Linked DNA regions of Homo sapiens: region 1 is linked to region 2. Evidence: fine-mapped expression QTL. Tissue or cell type: whole blood. Region 2 holds a variant in brackets; the other region holds the start of a gene. All regions are shown on one strand. Distances are from middle to middle.

Evidence for each region. PIP is the estimated chance that this variant, and not a neighbour inherited with it, causes the effect.
Region 1: it holds the start of LINC03033, and the variant in region 2 is fine-mapped to the expression of LINC03033 in whole blood (TOPMed, PIP 0.98). The same link has a PIP of 0.9 or more in thyroid.

The regions. Positions count from the first base shown.
Region 1 is chr14:61,565,915-61,574,016 of GRCh38, reverse strand. It overlaps LINC03033 (long intergenic non-protein coding RNA 3033), which reads right to left and starts at 3,477. Exons shown (of 3, transcript NR_039985.1): 1 at 3,257-3,477. It overlaps LINC01303 (long intergenic non-protein coding RNA 1303), which reads left to right and starts at 3,364. Exons shown (of 5, transcript NR_110416.1): 1 at 3,364-3,531; 2 at 4,340-4,473. RefSeq lists silencers at 4,187-4,379, 5,120-5,279, 5,360-5,429 and enhancers at 4,771-5,270, 5,271-5,772.
Region 2 is chr14:61,650,516-61,658,622 of GRCh38, reverse strand. LINC03033 (long intergenic non-protein coding RNA 3033) reads right to left here. Exons shown (of 3, transcript NR_039985.1): 2 at 7,606-7,661; 3 at 3,910-5,000. Among named protein-coding and RNA genes, the nearest start is that of HIF1A, 41 kb to the left of the region's middle. The variant A/C (reference allele first, on the strand shown) is at 4,574.

The sequences.
Region 1 (8,102 bases), 85 kb after region 2:
GCTTTTCAAGTAAGGAATCATTTCCCCCTCAAAGAGAGTTTCTGATCACCCCAGAAAATGATCGTGGGAACTTCTGAGTCATAGAATAAACATGAATATCAAAGAATAAGTTTACATATTTTGGGAACATGGAACACTTTCTTTTTCTAAGCCTCTGACAGCATTCCTGAGAAGTGCATCTGCCTTGAGTTCAGGGAACTGAAAATCTGTCCTTGGTTTGGCAGCTGACTAGCTCATTGACCTTGGGTTAATCATTTAACTTGGGATCGGCAATTCATAGTCAAAACCATGATTATTGTGATCCAAGAGAAGTCAGCCTGCCTGGGCATGGGGACCCAAAGGTTATAATTTTAAGGATTTCTTCCTTGGGAGTGGAGGCAAAATGCTGATAGTAATAGAGTGGCCCAGATTCAAATGCCTGAACGGTGAGTTTTACCAGGGCCCCCACGCCATTCAGTAAGCTCTCTGGGATTTTCAGTGGGCCTGGGGAGGTATAACTCACTTTGGCTCAGAGCTCTGAAAGCAGAACTTGGGTGGTTTATTAGAATATACAATGGAAGAGTTGGATGAGACCTGAGTAATGATGTTTTTGTTCACCGCTTGTCTCATCAGAGCAATCTTCTGGACACATAAATTTAATGTTCTCATCCTCTGCTTAAAACAGCCTTCCACTGTTCCAAAATAAAAGCCAAAGTCTTCAAAACTGTGTGCACATGTGATCCAGCCCCTGCCTACCTCTTTATATCTTGGTTTTCCTCGTCCCCTTTAATCCAGCCACAAGGACTTTACTCCAGTTCCTCCAATGAACTAACTCTTTGTATCCTGGGCACTCTCTAACCCCTCTTCACTTTTTTTTTTTTTTTTTTTTGAGACAGAGTCTCACTCTGTCGCCTAGGCTGGAGTGCAGTGGTGCGATCTTGGCTCACCGAAACCTCCGCCTCCTGGGTTCAAGCAGTTCTCCTGCCTCAGCCTCCCAAGTAGCTGGGATTACAGGCACCCTGCCACCACACCCAGCTAATTTTTCTGTATTTTTAGTAGACATGATGTTTCACCATGTTGGCCAGGATGGTTTCGAACTCTTGACCTCAAGTGATCCATCTGCCTCGGCCTCCCAAAGTGCTAAGATTACAGGTGTGAGCCACTGCACCTGGCCCCCTCTGTACTTTTTAATTTTTATTCTTCTTTCAACGCTCAGCTCAAATGTCACTTCCCCTAAGAAGCGTTCCCTGAGGCTTCCCCTCCCCATACACGTTAGATCAGATAAAGCTCTTGTAATATTCTTGTAGAACATCCTATTCTTTTGCTTCAGGGCCTTTATCACAATTGATAATTATATACTTACTTTTACTTATTGAATTAATTCCCAGTCTCTCTCAGTAGATTACATGCAGTGTCTGTTTCACTTGCCATTGTATCTCTAATGCCTACTACAAGTGCCTGGCATGTAGCAGACACAACTGCTTGTGAATGAATGAATGGTCTCAGTGATTCTGTAAGGATGAAGGTGATGTAGAGTAGTAGATGGCAGCTCTACTCTGGAAGTCCAGAATACTGCTCTGATTCACACCTGCAAGCCTTATTGGTCAATGACTACTGATATTCCAGCCACCCAAACAACTGCTTTCGGAGAAGCATTAATACCTGCGAATAAAACAAATCTATTCGTTTCATACATTTGGTTCAGAACACTAGGAGAATTTGAGAAGAGACGAGCCAGCCCCAAGCTGTCCTTGTTTCTTTTATTAAGAATAGGCCATGATTTGAGCACATTCTACTACTTGCCTCACTTCAGCCTATTGATGGGGGAAAAGTGAGAGTCTGTGTGTGGGGACTCTGGCTTGGCAGTGAGATCTAACACAGAAAGATCCTGAAGAAATATGCTGACAATGGGGTTTTATCTCTTCAATGCACTGGAGACAAAATCCCTGCTTTTAAAAACAACACTCATACAGAGCCAAGGATGTCCCAGAGTGAACAGTCCTAACCCTTTCTCAGCCTGCCTAAGAGCTCGTTGGTTTCAGAAGGATGAGCCAAGGACTGCTACTTAGAGACTACTGTCTAGGTCAACCCAACTGGCATAAGTAAAGCACCTACTGTTTATAGTAGGAGGCTGCAAGATAACAGGAGATGCAGACTATTGAAGGCTACTGATCTATCTGTGTAGACAGGCAAGAATAAAACAACTGGAGAAGAAATCCAGGATTACACAAAAAGAAGAGCGTGATGGTATGGTAGACTACTCCAGAACAGTGAATTTCCCCTGCATTAAGGATGAGATCCCTATGAATTGGGATCATTCAGGAAGTCTTCTTGGAGAAGAAAAGTTTGAGCATATGGGGAAAAAAAGTTGGATTGGCAAAGAGCTGAGCTGTCAGTAGCTGGGTCCTTAGTAAGTAGGCTGCATGGAGCTGGGAGTTATGCTAAAGGAGTTGTAATTTGGGATGCCTCTAATTAACCATTTTGGGAAAAATATAATAAATCCCTTTGTAGCATCTATAATAAACTGCCCAATATCTATGTGGTGGGGAAAAAGTTTTATTCTACGTTTCACGTGGATGGTGATAACACTAGGTAATCTCAGCATCTTTCTTATTCTCTTGCTAATCCAGGATTCTAAGTAATAATCACTTTGTTCTACAACCTGAATCTAGCCCTTGTACTGTGCAGTTTTTTTCTACACTTATTTTTCCTGTTGTCTGAATCAATCTCCATGGAAGCATAAGTTTTACTGAGTTTCAACCAGCTGTGTCCACCGAGGTAAAGATGGTAAAAATAAAAGGCACAGGGCATATATACCACAGCAGCAGTTACTTCCCACAAGGAACCAGAGATTGGAAGTGAAGCTAAAACATTTTCAGCTACGATAGCATCTCTTTCAAGGTGAGCCATTTCCCCAGGGAGAGTTTCCAGCTCTTAGCAAAGGCAGAACAATAAAACATCAAGGATGTCTTTCTAAGGCTGCAAACAGAATAGCCAATACCTTGAAGCTGATCTGCTTCAGAGTCCTTTAAAAGCCAGGACAGCAACAAAGTGCCCACATTACATTTTCTACAAGCTTGCTAAGCATCTCTTTTCCTAAACCACAAAACCCGAGACATTTCTACAGAACAGGCAGAAAGGGAAGTCCTGGGAGATCAGGGCCCTGTCTCAGCAGGCATCACTCCAGCCTGTCTTTTCCCGAGTGGTTTTCTGCACTTCTCTTCCATCTTTTCCCCTCTGTCCCACACTGGAAGTCACTAGTCTGTGCCCTCCTTACCTCCCATGGTTTCTGCACCTTCATTTCCAAAGGCAAGTGAAAACAGTGCCAGGCTGCGCACATGGGTTACTCCAGGGACTTCTCTTCCCGTTTCCCCTAAAGCATTTGACAGTTAGATCTTGGAACTGAGTCCAGCAGCACTGAGGTCAGAGAGATGGCTAAAGCTAAAAGCAAACTGGATGCTGTTCAGGAGGTTCTCCTTTGTCATTTTTATCTCCAAATAGAAGACCTCTGTTTTCCCAGAAGATTAAATAGTAGAAAAGAAGTAGCCCAAGGTGGGTGACTCTGCAAACAGGTGGGTGAGGTCTCTAGTTGAGTGAGGGGGTGTCTGTGGGTTGTGGGTTCTTCTTATGAGCAGAGCTTGGAGGAATTTGTTCTATTTGTTGTGGTTTTCCCAGGGGGAAGTCGGGGGTGGCTGGGACTCTAATGATCATTATCAGAAGACTTTGGATTAGGCCTCTGAAACTTTAAGATGTGGATCCTCTCGCAATCATGTTAAAATGCAGATCTCCTTTCAATAGGTCTGGGACAGAGCCTGGCTTTTCTATAAAGCTTCTGGTGATGGGATGTCGCTGGTTCTCAGCCACAATTTGAGTAGCAAGAGGTTAGCTTTTCTACTTACTGCCTTCATATCCCCAGTTGGGCTATGTCGTTTTATCAAAACAATGTGGTAAGAGTGAGCGCCAATTACTAGCCTGTTGAATCATCCATTGTTAGAGCTGTTTCTTTGAGGTACATTTAAGAGGCCCCTCCCTGTGGTTCCCCATTGCACAAGAAGCCCATTTGCCAGGCAATACCTTGGGCAAGCAAGCCACTGTGCAAAATTGCATTGGCTCTTCCTGCTGCCAGCCAGGCGGCTGCTGGTTGACGTTGGAGTTGTACAGTTTATGTGATAGTGATGACAGCGCTGGCTCTGAAGGGTACTGAAGATTTTGAAGGGGTACTTCGCTGCAGCAGCTTCACCTCTCACTTTTGTTTACCCACCCCCGAGGCTTGTGGGAGAGAAGGATCAGGCAGAGCTCTGCACGTGCCATGCCAGGGGTGGAGGAATTATATTTTTATTTTTTGCTTTCTCTGCTACAGGACATACCATGCCTTTTACAGATATTTATAGGACAATTTCCCTCCTGAGAGTGCCCAAGCATGGGGGATGGTGAGGAAGATGACTGAAGGAGAAAGCAGGAAAAGGGGGTGTCTGCATGTATGAGGATTGGAAGGTGGGGAAAACCCTTCGTGTTTGGTTCAGCCTTCAAGAAAGAGGAGGGGTTGACTAGATTACAGATGTTAAACCAGGGGTCTGTGGTTCAAACCAGCAACTCTCTGCCCTTGTAAGCTGTATCTGGCTGGTGTGTTAATTTGTCTAGGGTAAGAGCCCCTAGGTTTCAACAGATTGTCCTAGAGTCAATGATACACAAAAGGTTAATCAGCCTCATTTCCAATCAGGATCATCTGCAAGTCCCTCCCAGAGCAGATATTTGGAGCACTAGGCTTCTAGAAGCAGCAGACATCAAGTTCGGGCCATGGGATTAGGGTGGACAGGGCAGCCACTTGGAATCATTTTCTACCAGAGGCAGAAGAGGCTCAGCTAGCAACAGCCCCATTTTACAGAGCAGAAGCCGAGCTGCAGTCAATTCAGTGATTCCTCCTAAAGTAGGGAGTCAGAAGCCGAGCCTGGACTGGAACCTCGGCCTCCTAGCACACAGAGCACAGGTCTACATTGGGGAAAAGCCCCTTCAATCTGGCAGTTGCCTGGAAAGCGCAAGACATTTGCGGCCAGAGCGCCAGGAGCCCAGCTGGTTATTTCTAGCTTCCTGAATGTCAAAAATACAGGCCGCTTCTCAAAGCAGCCTCCACTTGTCAGACCAAATCAAGGCATCAGCGCGTCAAGCAGGCGAATCCTCTGCCCCAGGCACCAGCCTGGGGGCGCACGCCCTGCCTCCGCCCCGCCCCACACGGCGCACCTGACCGGTTCCCGCGGTGCGCCTAACCGCGGGCGGGCGAGCGCTGCACCCACGCACCCGGGCGTCGCTCCCACCTGCACCCCGGCGTCACGCCTGAGCGCAATCTGCAGCCTTCACCCACCTGGGCGGCTGCCTGGCTTTGTTTAGAGTTGGAGTCAGCCCGGCAGCCTGCCTTGGCCGAGTGTGACTAGGGAGCTGGTCTCTGACCCTAGCGGCAGATTGGGCAGGACACACTGCCTTCTCTCTGGTCTCTTTTGGAATCTCCCACTTTCACCTGCTTTTCTTCTTAGCAAAACTGCCACCCCTGCCCCTACCCCAATTCCTCGATAGATCTAAATCAACGGGCTTGTTTGTGCCTCTGCAGAACCAATCCAGTTTTACAGGAACAAAAACAAACCCCAGTCCTGAGCGTCTGTTGGTTTCCCGTCCCAACTTCTGTTCATTCAACAAACATGGGAGCATCTACTGGCTAGGCTTTGGACACAACAGACTGAACTCTACCCCAGGGAACTGGCAGCCCCCAGGGGAAAAGAGAAGCGGATGTTTTTAGGCTGTAATTTAACGGTCGCAGGAGAGTTTGCTAGGGAACATGGGGGCAGGGAATGAGCATTGCAGGCAGAGAGGACAGGCTGGTGAAAGAACACCGCAGGCGGTAGGATCTGCAGGAAGGCAGGGTGGCCGGTGGGCACAGAGAGATGAGGGCAAGTAGCAGTGATGGGCTGAGGAGGAGCCAGGACTCAGCCAGAGAAAGGAGAATTGACTTCATCCTGAGAACAATGCAGGGCCTTGGAAGGTTTAAACAGGGAAGTGACCAATCCAATTTGCTTTCTTAGTGGGACTGGAGAGCGCAAGGCCTGTCAGTCCCAGCACAGGGGCAGCAAGCGGCAGCACCGCTGAAAGTAGCAGCATTTTCAAGGACAGGGGTCATGTTCTCCCACTTGGGGATCAAATTACCTAAGTTTTCTTCTATTTCCACCCCCACGCTGCTGCCTTATTCCTATCCCTGGCCCCACTGTGACTGGTTTGGCCTTCTGCCTCCATTGGCCCTTGCCTAGCCTTTAGGTAAAATGCTAGGTTGACCAGGTGTCCAGAAAAAAAAAAGAATGGATAAAGAAAATATGGTGTGTGTGTGTGTGTGTGTGTGTGTGTGTGTGTGTGTGTATTTAACGATGGAATACAACTCAGCCATAAAAAAGACTAAAATCTTATCATGTGCAGCAACGTGGGTAGAATGGAGAGACATTATGTTGAAGGAAATAACCAGGAAGGCAAAGTTAAACACTGTATGTTCTTCTATGTGAAAGCTAAAAAAAACAGTTGATCTCATAGAAGTAAACAGTAGAACAGAGGACACTGGAGGCTGGGAGGGATGAATAGGGAGAGATTTGTTAAAGTAAACACAATTATAGCTAGATAGGAAGAATAAGCTGTACTGTTCTATACCACTGTGGGATGATTATAGTTAACAATATATAATTTCAAATAGCTAGAACAAGGATATTGAATTTTCCAACACAAAGAAATGATAAATGTTTGAGATAATGGATATGCCAATTACCCTGATTTATTGTACACAATACATATCAAAACATCACTGTGTACCCCCATGAGTGTGTACAATTATTATTTGTCAATTTAAAAATTATTTTAAAAGATGCTAGGTTGACTGTACTCCCAATCCATCACCCTATTTTCAACCATCCATTTGTTCATTGACTCAATAACAATTTCTAAAGTGTTGCTGTGTGCCAGGTGCTGAGTTAGTCATTGTGGGATACAGAATGGGAGATTCATCTGTTTCCTGATCTCAAAGAGCTTAGAATTTATCCAATGTCCAAACTTGCCAGTGCATCAGAATCATCTATAAAGATTTAGAAAAATATAGCCAATTGATCTTCACCCCAGACTGACTGAATCAGAATGTTTCAGGGTAAGTTCCAGGAAGCCATATTATTAAAATTCTCCTCCAGGTAATTTTGTTGAGCAGTCAGAATCTCTGATCCCTAGAGGAATGCTGAAGTGGAATTTCTCTAGTGACCTTTCCTCTACATAGTTGAACAGACTCAGAGTCTGGCTCCTGACCATAAGACAGAGAAATCACCAGAGAAGACAGGGCAACCGCAGTCCAACTGAGCTGTAAGCCTGGGACCTGCTCACTCACCTTCAAGAAAGCAGGAGGGGCAGGAGGGATGGGTAAATGTAAGGAAAGAGAAGAATGTACTGGGATGGCGGGGTGGGTTGTACATGCCTAGAGTGGAAGATGCCTCTCTATCTAAATTTTATAAATTGTCCATTTAGAAAGCAGAAGACCAGCTCTCTGGCTTGTTGAAACAAACACTCCTTCTTTCTCAGCCACATCTTGATTACTATGGTCAAGTAGGGATGATTGTGCTGGCCAATTTCAAATGGTAGCCCTGATGAATTATAACAAATAATCTCCACGTGCTTTATACACATGCCCATGTCCCCACCAATTAAGTCTGAGTACTAGGGCAAATTGAAGCAAAGGGTGGTGGGGGGTGATCCTGTTAGCTTGCTGTCCTCAGAAATAGCCTCTCCAAGGTACTCTAAAAAGCAGCGGTTCTGTTGGATCATGCCTGGAAAACAGGTCTCCTTGGAGTTTGAGGGGATTAAAATTTTAGTTCCAGTTAACTTTCTGTCTCTTGGTGAAGACTGTTCCCAGAAATCTAATTGTGAAGTATTTATTTGTTGACAGCTAATGATGAGTCAGCTACTGTGATGCCTTAAACATGAATATGTTTCCAATCTTCCTGGAAAGATGAGATACAGTTATACGTAAAAGTGAATAAACACAAGACTTATTTCCAGACAACACTAGAAGAGATGGTTTTGTGGGTATCTGAAGTTCTATATCCTGAAAGCTT
Region 2 (8,107 bases):
GTATACATGTGCCATGTTGGTGTGCTGCACCCAGTAACTCGTCATTTACATTAGGTATATCTCCTAATGCTATCCCTCTCCCCTCCCCCCACCCCACAACAGGCCCCAGTGTGTGATGTTCCCCTTCCTGTGTCCAAGTGTTCTCATTGTTCAATTCCCACCTATGAGTGAGAACATGCAGTATTTGGTTTTTTGTCCTTGCGATAGTTTGCTGAGAATGATGGTTTCCAGCTTCATCCATGTCCCTACAAAGGACATGAACTCATCCTTTTTTATGGCTGCATAGTATTCCATGGTGTATATGTGCCACATTTTCTTAATCTAGTCTATCACTGATGGACATTTGGGTTGGTTCCAAGTCTTTGCTATTGTGAATAGTGCCACAATAAACATACGTGTGCATGTGTCTTTATAGCAGCATGATTTATAATCCTTTGGGTATATACCCAGTAATGGGATGGCTGGGTCAAATGGTATTTCTAGTTCTGGATCCTTGAGGAATCGCCACACTGTCTTCCACAATGGTTGAACCAGTTTACAGTCCCACTAATAGTGTAAAAGTGTTCCTATTTCTCCACATCCTCTCCAGCACCTGTTGTTTCCTGACTTTTTAATGACTGCCTTTCTAACTGGTGTGAGATGGTATCTCATTGTGATTTTGATTTGCATTTCTCTGATGGCCAGTGATGATGAGCATTTTTTCATGTGTCTGTTGGCTGCATAAATGTCTTCTTTTGAGAAGTGTCTGTTCATATCCTTTGCCCACTTTTTGATGGGGTTGTTTGTTTTTTCTTGTAAATTTGTTTGAGTTCTTTGTAGATTCTGGCTATTAGCCCTTTGTCAGATGAGTAGATTGCAAAAATTTTCTCCCATTCTGTAGGTTGCCTGTTCACTCTGATGGTAGTTTCTTTTGCTGTATATCAACAGTTTTCTAATGATTGCAAACTTAGTACAAGGGAGGCTTTCTCCCATTTGAAAGTAGGGGCAGTATTTTCCAGACTCACTCTTCTAGAAGCCACTGAAAAAGAAGCAAAATATTTACATTTAGATGGATATGGTGTTGGGCCATCTAACTTGCTAGTAATCAGTCTGCACCTGTACTTGCAATAGCTGTGTTCAGATTCGATTTTCTTTTTTCTGAGAACATCAACAGTACAAAGCAACTTCCATCCATCTCCTTGCTTAAATCTCATTAGAACTTTGGGAGGCCAAGATGGGAGGATTGCTTGAGTTCAGGAGTTTGAGACCAGCCTGGGTAACATAGTGAGACTTTGTCTCTACAAAAAATAAAAGATTAGTTGGGTGGTGGCATTTACCTGTAGGCCCAGCTACTCAGAAGACTGAGGGAGGAGGCTGAGGCGGGAGGCTGAGGCAGGAGGATCGCTTGAGCCCAGGAATTTGAGGCTGCAGTGAGCCATGATCGTGCCACTGCACTCCAGCATAGGCAATAGTGAGACACTGTCTCAAAAAAAAAAATCCACAAAAATCTCATTAGAAAGAATTTCAGAAAAAAGAAATCCAAATAACTCATATTGAAGAATTCAAATTGCATCTGCAAAGTAGGTATTATAGAACACACTCTTGTAAGCCATCACTGCCAAAACTAATGTTTTTGTTTGTGAAAGAAGTTCATTTAAGAAGGACCTCCATTTCAATTAGTATCATATAAAAAACAAACTGGCAGGCAAATTAAGAAACAACTGAGAGCTGGGCGTGGTGGCTCAGGCCTGTAATCCCAGCACTTTGGGAGGCTGAGGTGGGTGGATTACCTGAGGTCAGAAGTTCAAGACCAGCCTGGTCAATGTAGTGAAACCTTGCCTCTGCAAAACATACAAAAAATTAGCCAGGTGTGGTGGTGGCCACCTGTAATCCCAGCTACTCGGGAGGCTGAGGCAGGAGAATAGCTTGAACCCAGGAGGCGGAGGTTGCAGTGAACTGAAGTCGCACCATTGCACTCCAGCCTGGGCGACAGAGCGATACTCTGTCAAAACAAACAAACAAACAAAAAAAGAGAAACAACTAGGGGAAAAACCAGTAAAACTACCTAGATGATATCAATGGGAAATCACTGCCAGAATCTATGTGGTTAACAGGCAGGATATAGCTCTATGACCAGTCCTTGTACTAACAATGATACCTGTTATTTCTTCTGAACAGAATCTGAATTAAAGCTCTCAAAAAGCAGCCATTTTACTTGAAGGTGGGAGTATCACTGACTAGTGATCCAGATTAATTTATAGCTAGATTAACTAGGTTGTGATCATCTTAGAAAGCAGGAATAAGTCTCTAATAGGTTTGGATTCATCTTTAGGGTGTTCAGGTATAGGTGGGATGGATTAGAACTGTGTTTCCCAAACTTAAGTCACTTGCCAATTACTTTTATGATTTTTGCCACTTCTGATCATGTACCACTTTTTGACATTTCTTATGTCATATTTTTCTTTAAGATGATTTAATTTGAAACTTAAATACATTTGTTTTAAAAAAGACTTTATCACTCCTGTAAACAGGAAACCAGCATAACTTGCTATAAACAGAGAGGAATTGTGTGCTGGGTGCGGTGGCTCATGTCTGTAATACCAGCACTTTGGGAAGCCAAGGTGGGAGGATTGCTTGAGCCCGGAAGTATGAGACCAGCCTGGGCAACATAGCAAGACCCCATCTCTACAAAAAGTAAAAAATTAGCTGGAGGTGGTGCTGCATGCCTACAGTCCCAGCTACTTGAGGGGCTGCGGGGGGAGGATCCCACCTCCTGAGTCCAGGAGTTAGAGGCTGCAGTGAGCTGTGATGGTGTCACTGCACTCAGCCTGGGCAACAGAGTGAGACCCTATATCAAAAAAGAAAAGATAGTAATTGTGAAAATAAAAAAAATAAAAACCAACGTTATTATATTTTAGTTAAATACCATCCTCTCAGAAGGCTGTGATCCCAAAGTCTGCTGTCTTTTTGTTGAAAAATAGAGTAGTGAACACCAGAAGTGTTAAGTATGTGCTAATATCAAACTAAGACTCTTCTCCTGAGTCAATCAAAAGAACTGAAGAAAACTGGAAAAGGAAAAACCTGTCTCCCTCCATGTCGTCTCCTGCTGTTCTCCGCTGCCTCATCCCGGGCTAGCTCCAGGGTCCTCTGTGCTGTTCTGTTCCGCCAATTCACTGACTCCACTCCTGTCTCATTACCTTCACACTTGTGGTTTCCTCCTACCAGATAGATAAGTTTTCCCCCAGATCCTTACAGAGTTCCATCGCTCACTGGTCTCTACTCAAAGGCTGTTTCTACTTTTCTTTTCTTACTTTCTTTCTTTCTTTTTTTTTTTGTTTTTTGAGACGGGGTCTGGCTCTGTTGACCAGGCTCGAGTGCAGTGGTGCAATCTCAGCTTACTGCAACCTCTGCCTCCTGGGTTCAAGCGATTCTCCTGCCTCAGCCTCTGGTGTAGCTGGATTACAGGTGCCTGCCACCATACCCGGCTAATTTTTGTATTTTTAGTAGAGACGGGGTTTCACCATGTTGGTCAGGCTGGTCTCGAACTCCTGACCTCAGGTGATCCGCCTGCCTCAGCCTCCCAAAGTGCTGGGATTACAGGCATGAGCCACTGCCCCCGGCCAAATGCTGCTTTTTCTGATAGGTGTTCCCTGACTGACCACAGTCAGTAAAATAGCTCCTCCATTCATTCATTCATTCATTCATTCATTTATTCATTCTGGGTGAACTTCCATTGCAGTCCATCTATTTGGCTTCCTTCCTTGTCTTACCCTGTTTTTTTCTGAATGGCAGGATTCTCTTTGCTATACAGCCAATCAAAAAATATAATTTATTCTTCTCCTGTTAGTTAAATAATATTGTTTGGTTTATAGGTAGGGTTAATTTTTATTTAAAAAACATGTAGGTGTAAAAATTACAGAAGAATATACAAAACACTTTAACCATTTAATCTTCAGGTAGTAGGAGTTGTGGTGATTTTTATTTCCTTTGTTATACTTTTCTGAATTGACTGATTTTATTCCCAGTAAATTCAGTTTAAGATGACAAAATCTCTGTTTTTTGTAGTTATAAACTTGTACTAGTCATAAACATGTGCTAGCTCCAAGTGAAAAAATTAGTGCTGTTCAACATAAATTCTCAGGATATTATACTCGAGAGCCAGTAGGAATAAGGGCAAAGAAACAAGCGTTAAGGCAAGTAAATTAGATGATGAGAGAAAACCTAGTCTACAAAGTTACCATTTAAATCTTGAACTCCGGACAGCTATTTCATAAATGGTTTTCTTTGGTCATACAAGGTGACCATGGGTCATATAAGGTAATGTTAAAATCACAAGTCAGGGTTTCTGTCTGACTGCTGGTGGGTCAGATATCTTCCCCTCCCATGAAAGAAAAGTCATTCTTTAGTGTTAATAATCTTGTCATGTCTGTAGAAATGAGCACTTCCTCTTCCACCACCAAGCTCCCCACCCCAAATTCTGCTTGGGACATTATACTGCAGGCTAATGATCTAAACAAAATTAAGATTCATTAAATTAACAATTCCATTGTTCCTAATTAAGATTTTACTTTGCACTTAAGATATTGAACCATAC[A/C]TAGCCCTGTGTATATTTTTAATGCAAGCAAATATTAATGAAGCAAATTTGTCATTTTCATTTGTGTATTTTGGACAAAGGTTTGTTTATACTCAGTGAAATGATAATTTTTTCTGGTAATTTCTCCTTTTCCCAGCAAAGAATGCTTAATCTCCTTTCTGAAAATGATTTGATTTGGGCAGCAAATCCTACGTTGAGAATTCTTCCCAGATCTCAAGTTATATAACTGAACAGATGGTATTCGCATGGCTTTGACAGGTCAGGCTGCTATCACAGGACATCCTGAGGAAGCAGCTCGGAAGCCTTCCCGAGGAGAGTGGGAAGATCCCGTGAGCAAGCAGGCACGTGTGGCTGTGGGATTGGGTGAAGAACTGCACTCTGACTCAGCTTCCCATCTTCATGGCCCAGGAGCAAATTCCTCAGGATCCTGAAAGAGGTACAAATAATCCTGCAGAAACTAGTGGTACATTTGATTGAATCAGAAAAATAAACAAATCTTTCCTGTGGGAGAAAACAAAGTCTCTCAGGGAATGTGATACAGGAAGAGTGATTTGGTTTGTGGTCATGGTTGAAGTGCCACAGGTAGATGGACAGTGAATTGGATGTGTTCTAATTGTACCTTGGGCTTGCAGCATGATGGGGCAAAAATGGGAAAAATATCCCTGTCTTCACAGAGTTTGCAGCTTATTGGGAGAGAAAAAAATCACTCAGTCAATAAATACATGAACAAACACACACATGAGAGTGATAAGTGCCAAGGAGAAAAAAAAATGCTGAGAAGGGGGATACAGAGATATGTGTATAAAATTTTAGATAGAAATCCTCTTTTAAAAAAGATGTCATTTGAGTAAAGAAAGACCTGAAGGAAATGAGAGAGAAAACCATGTATATAGCAGGGAAAGAGAACTCCAGTAAGCAGAAACAGCCAATGCAAACGCCCTGAGCCAGGGAAATGCCCGGAGTGTCCAGGGACCCATAAAAATCCCCATGCGGCTAACGCAGAGCACACTGGGGAAGCAGTGTGCAAGATGAGGTTTGAAAGCCAGTGTGAGGTCAGATCATACAGAGTCTTGAAGTTCACAGCCTGGAATTGCCTTTTCATCTAAGTGAGATGGAAAACAGGAGGGTCTGGAGCAGACAAATGACATAATTTGGATTATTGTTTACTGGGATCGCTCTTTGTAGGAAATAGGTTGTGGGGCAGCAAGGGCAGAGGCAAGGGGCAGGGCAGTGAGGGGCAGGGAAGAAGCATCTAGAAGGCTATTGAGATAATTCAGGCAAGAGAGGAAGGTGGATTGGACCAGGATGGTGGCAGTCTAAGCAGCAAGAAGTGGGTAAATTCTGGATATATTTTGAAGGTAGAATCAACAGGTCTGGTTAATGGATTAGATGCATTGTATGAGAAAAAAAAAGAGAAGTTTAGGGTTATTCCAAAGTTTGGGGGCTACACAACTGGAAGGATGGAGTAGATCTGAGAAGCTTAATAAGAAGGAGGAGAATGTGGGAAGGGCAGGTTTGGAGGATATCAGGACATCTGTTTGGAATATATTATGTTTGAGATGTTGAGTGGGCAATTGAATGCACAAGTCTGATGTGCCAAGGAGAGATTTGGGCTGAAAATATAAATGAGACAGTCATCAGTACAGACAGGGCATTTAAAGCCATGAGGCTCCATGAGTTCACCTAGTGATGGATACTGTGTACAGAAACCAAAAGAATATGCAGAGAGTGATATTCTGTATGGAATGCTGCTGGTAAGTACAATGAGGCAAGCTGAGCATTGGGTTTAGCCATATGCAAGTCATCATTGATCTTTATAAGAGCAGCTTTTTAGAATCTAGGGCAAAAGGTTTGCTGGACTGGGTTCAAGAGAGAATGCAGACATTGGACACAGCGAGCAAAGACACTCCATTCAAAAACATTTGCTTTACAGGGAAGAGGAGAGATAGTGGTAGTTGGATGGGAAGACGGGATCAAGAGAGGATTTAAAAATTTTTTTAATTGAAGAACTATATATATGGTAAAGATGCTTACTGCTTGTGTATCGCTCTATAATTTTCACAACCAAACACACCCAAGTAACTAGTACTCATTTCAAGAAAAATAATAGTGCTAGTCCCCAAGAAGTCTCCTGCCTCCTCCCTCTCAATCACTGTCCCCACCCAAGGGCAACAACTATCTTGAACTGACTTCTAAAACCCAATTCATTTTCCCACTTTTGTACTTTGCATAAATGAAATCATACAGTTCATGCTCTTCTGCATCTGTTTTTTTTGCCAGTATGTTACATTTGCAATATTCATCTATATTGTTGCCTGTAATTACGGTTTGATCATTCTTATTGCTATATAATAATCTATTGTGTGAGTATACCAAGATTTATTGATCCCTTCTACTGTTGCCAGGCAAATGGGTATTTTCCAGTTTTACAAATAGTGCTACTATGAGCATTCTAGTACATGTCGTTTGGTGAGCATACGTACACACTTTACTGGGTATATTTCTGTGAGTGGAATTGCTGGGGCATAGAGAATGCATATATTCAGGTTTAGTTTTCCAAAATGGCTATATCGATTTATGCTCCCACTAGCACTGTAAGGGAGACTTTATCAGTAATAGAGGTGATATTATAACATCTTCATCTGTTACTCCTTTGTCTTATATCTTAATTTTTTGAGAATTAAGGGGATGAAGAGGGGTAGTGATTACTGGGCCCGCTCAAAATCTTAAGGAAGAGACTGCTGCTCATAGGGTTGTTGTGAGGAGTGACCGACTGTAAAATACCTGGCATCATCCTGGCCCAGGATATGTATCCAGCATATGTTAGTTGTTGCTCTAATTTTGTAGTCACCCTCTCAGCCTTGTCTCCAGGCAGAGGTCAAGGTAAAGCAGTGATAACTGCAGTTTCCTTCTCCTCTAAATCACACTCATCCATCCAATTTGCTTTATAGCACTGGGAAACGGTGAGCGCTCAGGATGCTTCACTGACCATATTGCAGGACCAAGAATAAATAACACAGAAGCTCACCTACCTCTCTTCATAACTTTCTCTGCATCCTCCTGTTAGACCAGGCATTTCATCAGGTTCCTGGAGGGGTTAAAGAACAGTCATGTGTTCGATTTCATTGTAAATCATCTAATAAACCATCTATAGAAAAAGCATACACTAGAGATGGTTTATACCACCACTGAACTCTAATAGCGGCAATCCTAAGGCGGGCTGGTTAAATTATAGCTGGATGTAATTCCTTGCCGTTTGCTGCTATCTGGAGATGTTCGTTGTTTATTTAACAAATAAATTTAATATACTTCTGCATTTAAAAAAATTTCTTTCCTTATAGGTATGTCCATCCAAAAGGAGCATATGTGACTAAAATCATCATGATATCCAAGGAGGTGAATTGATTTTTACAGGATTGTGTCTGATTATATCTTTTATCTCCACATCAAAAAATAATTAATGGAGTTGGTGAAAATCAATATCTTTCAGTGATGTAATCTAGGTAAAACCAAAATCTTCTCTGTAGTATATTT